Linked DNA regions of Homo sapiens: region 1 is linked to region 2. The links come from fine-mapping of genetic effects on gene expression. A gene starts in region 2. The other region holds a variant in brackets. All regions are shown on one strand. Distances are from middle to middle.

What was found.
Region 1: its variant is fine-mapped to the expression of MAP3K11 in adrenal gland (GTEx, PIP 0.98).

What each region holds. Positions count from the first base shown.
Region 1 is chr11:66,092,019-66,094,925 of GRCh38, reverse strand. All of the region lies in intron 1 of PACS1 (phosphofurin acidic cluster sorting protein 1), which reads right to left. Among named protein-coding and RNA genes, the nearest start is that of PACS1, 23 kb to the right of the region's middle. The variant A/G (reference allele first, on the strand shown) is at 1,284.
Region 2 is chr11:65,612,522-65,615,428 of GRCh38, reverse strand. MAP3K11 (mitogen-activated protein kinase kinase kinase 11) reads left to right here and starts at 1,208. Exons shown (of 10, transcript NM_002419.4): 1 at 1,208-2,411. The coding sequence starts at 1,673. RefSeq lists enhancers at 29-118, 179-228, 111-997, 739-1,168, 1,886-2,773 and a silencer at 1,419-1,598.

The sequences.
Region 1 (2,907 bases), 480 kb before region 2:
TTATATGCTGGATTACATTTATTGATTTGTGTATATTGAACCAGCCTTGCATCCCAGGGATGAAGCCCACTTGATCATGGTGGATAAGCTTTTGGATGTGCTGCTGGATTCGGTTTGCCAGTATTTTATTGAGGATTTTTGCATCGATGTTCATCAAGGATATTGGTCTAAAATTCTCTTTTTTGGTTGTGTCTCTGCCCGGCTTTGGTATCAGGATGATGCTGGCCTCATAAAATGAGTTAGGGAGGATTCCCTCCTTTTCTGTTGATTGGAATAGTTTCAGAAGGAATGGTACCAGTTCCTCCTTGTACCTCTGGTAGAATTCAGCTGTGAATCCATCTGGTACTGGACTCTTTTTGGTTGGTAAGCTATTGATTATTGCCACAATTTCAGAGCCTGTTATTGGTCTATTCAGAGATTCAACTTCTTCCTGGTTTAGTCTTGGGAGGGTGTATGTGTCGAGGAATTTATCCATTTCTTCTAGATTTTCTAGTTTATTTGCGTAGAGGTGTTTGTAGTATTCTCTGATGGTAGTTTGTATTTCTGTGGGATCGGTGGTGATATCCCCTTTATCATTTTTTATTGCGTCTATTTGATTCTTCTCTCTTTTTTTCTTTATTAGTCTTGCTAGCGGTCTATCAATTTTGTTGATCCTTTCAAAAAACCAGCTCCTGGATTCATTAATTTTTGAAGGGTTTTTTGTGTCTCTATTTCCTTCAGTTCTGCTCTGATTTTAGTTATTTCTTGCCTTCTGCTAGCTTTTGAATGTGTTTGCTCTTGCTTTTCTAGTTCTTTTAATTGTGATGTTAGGGTGTCAATTTTGGATCTTCCCTGCTTTCTCTTGTGGGCATTTAGTGCTATAAATTTCCCTCTACACACTGCTTTGAATGCGTCCCAGAGATTCTGGTATGTTGTGTCTTTGTTCTCGTTGGTTTCAAAGAACATCTTTATTTCTGCCTTCATTTTGTTATGTACCCAGTAGTCATTCAGGAGCAGGTTGTTCAGTTTCCATGTAGTTGAGTGGTTTTGAGTGAGATTCTTAATCCTGAGTTCTAGTTTGATTGCAATGTGGTCTGAGAGACAGTTTGTTATAATGTCTGATCTTTTACATTTGCTGAGGAGAGCTTTACTTCCAACTATGTGGTCAATTTTGGAATAGGTGTGGTGTGGTGCTGAAAAAAATGTATATTCTGTTGATTTGGGGTGGAGAGTTCTGTAGATGTCTATTAGGTCCGCTTGGTGCAGAGGTGAGTTCAATTCCTGGGTATCCTTGTTAACTTTCT[A/G]TCTTGTTGATCTGTCTAATGTTGACAGTGGGGTGTTAAAGTCTCCCATTATTATTGTGTGGGAGTCTAAGTCTCTTTGTAGGTCACTCAGGACTTGCTTTATGAATCTGGGTGCTCCTGTATTGGGTGCATATATATTTAGGATAGTTAGCTCTTCTTGTTGAATTGATCCCTTTACCATTATGTAATGGCCTTCTTTGTCTCTTTTGATCTTTGTTGGTTTAAAGTCTGTTTTATCAGAGACTAGGATTGCAACCCCTGCCTTTTTTTGTTTTCCATTTGCTTGGTAGATCTTCCTCCATCCTTTTATTTTGAGCCTATGTGTGTCTCTGCACGTGAGATGGGTTTCCTGAATACAGCACACTGATGGGTCTTGACTCTTTATACCTAGGAATCCAACTTACACGGGACGTGAAGGACCTCTTCAAGGAGAACTACAAACCACTGCTCAATGAAATAAAAGAGGATACAAACAAATAGAAGAACATTCCATGCTCATGGGTAGGAAGAATCAATATCGTGAAAATGGCCATACTGCCCAAGGTAATTTATAGATTCAATGCCATCCCCATCAAGCTACCAATGACTTTCTTCACAGAATTGGAAAAAACTACTTTAAAGTTCATATGGAACCAAAAAAGGGCCCGCATCACCAAGTCAATCCTAAGCCAAAAGAACAAAGCTGGAGGCATCACGCTACCTGACTTCAAACTATACTATAAGGCTACAGTAACCGAAACAGCATGGTACCAAACAGAGATATAGATCAATGGAACAGAACAGAGCCCTCAGAAATAACGCCGCATATCTACAACTATCTGATCTTTGACAAACCTGAGAAAAACAAGCAATGGGGAAAGGATTCTCTATTTAATAAATGGTGCTGGGAAAACTGGCTAGCCATATGTAGAAAGCTGAAACTGGATCCCTTCCTTACACCTTATACAAAAATTAATTCAAGATGGATTAAAGACTTAAACGTTAGACCTAAAACCATAAAAACCTTAGAAGAAAACCTAGGCATTACCATTCAGGACATAGGCATGGGCAAGGACTTCATGTCTAAAACACCAAAAGCAATGGCAACAAAAGCCAAAATTGACAAATGGGATCTAATTAAACTCAAGAGCTTCTGCACAGCAAAAGAAACTACCATCAGAGTGAACAGGCAACCTACAAAATGGGAGAGAATTTTCGCAACCTACTCATCTGACAAAGGGCTAATATCCAGAATCTACAGTGAACTCAAACAAATTTACAAGAAAAAAACCAACAACCCCATCAAAAAGTGGGCGAAGGACATGAACAGACACTTCTCAAAAGAAGACATTTATGCAGCCAAAAAAGACATGAAAAAATGCTCACCATCACTGGCCATCAGAGAAATGCAAATCAAAACCACAATGAGATACCATCTCACACCAGTTAGAATGGCAATCATTAAAAAGTCAAGAAACAACAGGTGCTGGAGAGGATGTGGAGAAATAGGAACACTTTTACACTGTTGGTGGGACTGTAAACTAGTTCAACCACTGTGGAAGTCAATGTGGCGATTCCTCAGGGATCTAGAACTAGAAATACCATTTGACCCAGCCATCCCATTACTGGGTATACACCCAAAGGA
Region 2 (2,907 bases):
CCTCTCGGCCCGCCCCCTTTAATGCTGGACCTCGTACGTCACGACCGATTTCGCTCCCAGCGGCGTCTACTTCCGGGTCAGAGCTCAGACCTAGGGTGTAGAGAACAACCTTCCGTAACAGGCAGGAATAGTCGAAATAGGATAGCGTCGTCTTTCTTAAAGTGACAGGCTCAAAGCAATTGGGGCAGCCCTATCCAGAAGTTGTGAGGGCGACTCAGCTATTCTGAATCCAATCCTGGGCAAAGTTCTGGACAAGTCTCAGGTTTCTGCCAATGGGGAAGGGATATGAAGAAGCGGATTGTTTCCCAGGTGAGGAGAAGAAGAGAGCCTTAGGCAATCCACTCCAAGAGCTTGAGGTGCAGCCAGTTCCGTCTGTCCTCCAGTCTTCCCCACCCCATCCAACTAGCTCTACGAGGCAGAGCTTTCTCGTCCTCATATCATATATGAAAAGAATGGCCGGGCGCGGTGGCTCACGCCTGTAATCCCAACACTTTGGGAGGCCGAGGCGGGAGGATCACGAGGTCAGGGGTTTGAGACCAGCATGGCCAACATGGTGAAACCCGTCTCCACTAAAAATACAAAAATTAGCCGGCCGTGGTGCCACGCGCCGGTAGTCCCAGCTACTCGGGAGGCTGAGGCAGGAGAATCTCTTGAACCCGGGAGGCGGAGGTTGCAGTGAGCTTAGACTGCGCCATTGCATACCAGCCTGGGCGACAGAGCAAGACTCCGTCTCAAAAGAAGAAAAAAGAAAGAAAATAATGAGGCTCAGAATCGATGGATCGCACAGTCCCACAACTTCGCAGCCAAGACCAGACTCGGGTTCACCCCCTTCCCAAGTGTGGTTCTGTAACCCCGTTTTGCTGCCGCCGATGCGGATGCAGAGGGCAGAGATGGCCCATCCTTAGCAGAGACCAACCTCCACCCTAGGCAGCAGAGCACGCAGCTGGGGGCTTTTCTTTCTAGATCTCAAAAGCCTGCTGTGATGGGGGATCTGGTTCTGCCCTTTCCCTCTCTGCCTCTCCTGGCCCGCCTACCCGGGAACTCCCCGCCTGGAGCCTCTGGGAGGGGAGCGGTGCAGGCCGCCCGCGTCATCTGATGCTGTTTCCTGCAGGAGGGAGAAGAGCGGAAAAAAGTGAAACTCCACCCTCCACCTCTGCCTCCCGCCCCCGGGGCCAAAGTACAAAGGGAGGAGGAAGAAGGGAGCGGGGTCGGAGCCGTCGGGGCCAAAGGAGACGGGGCCAGGAACAGGCAGTCTCGGCCCAACTGCGGACGCTCCCTCCACCCCCTGCGCAAAAAGACCCAACCGGAGTTGAGGCGCTGCCCCTGAAGGCCCCACCTTACACTTGGCGGGGGCCGGAGCCAGGCTCCCAGGACTGCTCCAGAACCGAGGGAAGCTCGGGTCCCTCCAAGCTAGCCATGGTGAGGCGCCGGAGGCCCCGGGGCCCCACCCCCCCGGCCTGACCACACTGCCCTGGGTGCCCTCCTCCAGAAGCCCGAGATGCGGGGGGCCGGGAGACAACACTCCTGGCTCCCCAGAGAGGCGTGGGTCTGGGGCTGAGGGCCAGGGCCCGGATGCCCAGGTTCCGGGACTAGGGCCTTGGCAGCCAGCGGGGGTGGGGACCACGGGCACCCAGAGAAGGTCCTCCACACATCCCAGCGCCGGCTCCCGGCCATGGAGCCCTTGAAGAGCCTCTTCCTCAAGAGCCCTCTAGGGTCATGGAATGGCAGTGGCAGCGGGGGTGGTGGGGGCGGTGGAGGAGGCCGGCCTGAGGGGTCTCCAAAGGCAGCGGGTTATGCCAACCCGGTGTGGACAGCCCTGTTCGACTACGAGCCCAGTGGGCAGGATGAGCTGGCCCTGAGGAAGGGTGACCGTGTGGAGGTGCTGTCCCGGGACGCAGCCATCTCAGGAGACGAGGGCTGGTGGGCGGGCCAGGTGGGTGGCCAGGTGGGCATCTTCCCGTCCAACTATGTGTCTCGGGGTGGCGGCCCGCCCCCCTGCGAGGTGGCCAGCTTCCAGGAGCTGCGGCTGGAGGAGGTGATCGGCATTGGAGGCTTTGGCAAGGTGTACAGGGGCAGCTGGCGAGGTGAGCTGGTGGCTGTGAAGGCAGCTCGCCAGGACCCCGATGAGGACATCAGTGTGACAGCCGAGAGCGTTCGCCAGGAGGCCCGGCTCTTCGCCATGCTGGCACACCCCAACATCATTGCCCTCAAGGCTGTGTGCCTGGAGGAGCCCAACCTGTGCCTGGTGATGGAGTATGCAGCCGGTGGGCCCCTCAGCCGAGCTCTGGCCGGGCGGCGCGTGCCTCCCCATGTGCTGGTCAACTGGGCTGTGCAGATTGCCCGTGGGATGCACTACCTGCACTGCGAGGCCCTGGTGCCCGTCATCCACCGTGATCTCAAGTCCAACAACAGTGAGTTTCTGGGGGCATGGTTGGGGGTGGCATGGCTCTGGTACACACCTGCTCCCAACCTTCCACTGAGCCTAGCTTAGGGTCTACTGCAGGTAGGAGCTCCCACCCTAGGGGGTCCCAGCTGACCAGGGGTGCCCATGGGCTCAAGCTAGCCCCCAAACAGAGCCCCAGGCACCCAGCAGAGTCTTCCTGCGCCAGCTTCAGAAGTCCTTGACCCCAGCCTGCAGCTGCGGTTTGGACAAGTTAAGAAATTGGTATCTCTCAGGTGGGCCATAAGCATCCTGCCCAGCCATGGCTCCCACCTCAAGGAAGTCCTCTGGAAGCTCGTGCTCCTCATCTTCTCCTCCCCTAAATTCATGTTCGTGGAGTTGGTGCTCTGTCCTCCCCTCCCGTCGTCATGGGCAGCTCCTCCAGAACAGATATCTCAGAGAGGGAAGCCCTCCTTGGCAGTCAAGGCTAAGGCCAGGGCTGGAATTCTGGCCTAGCCCTCCCTGGC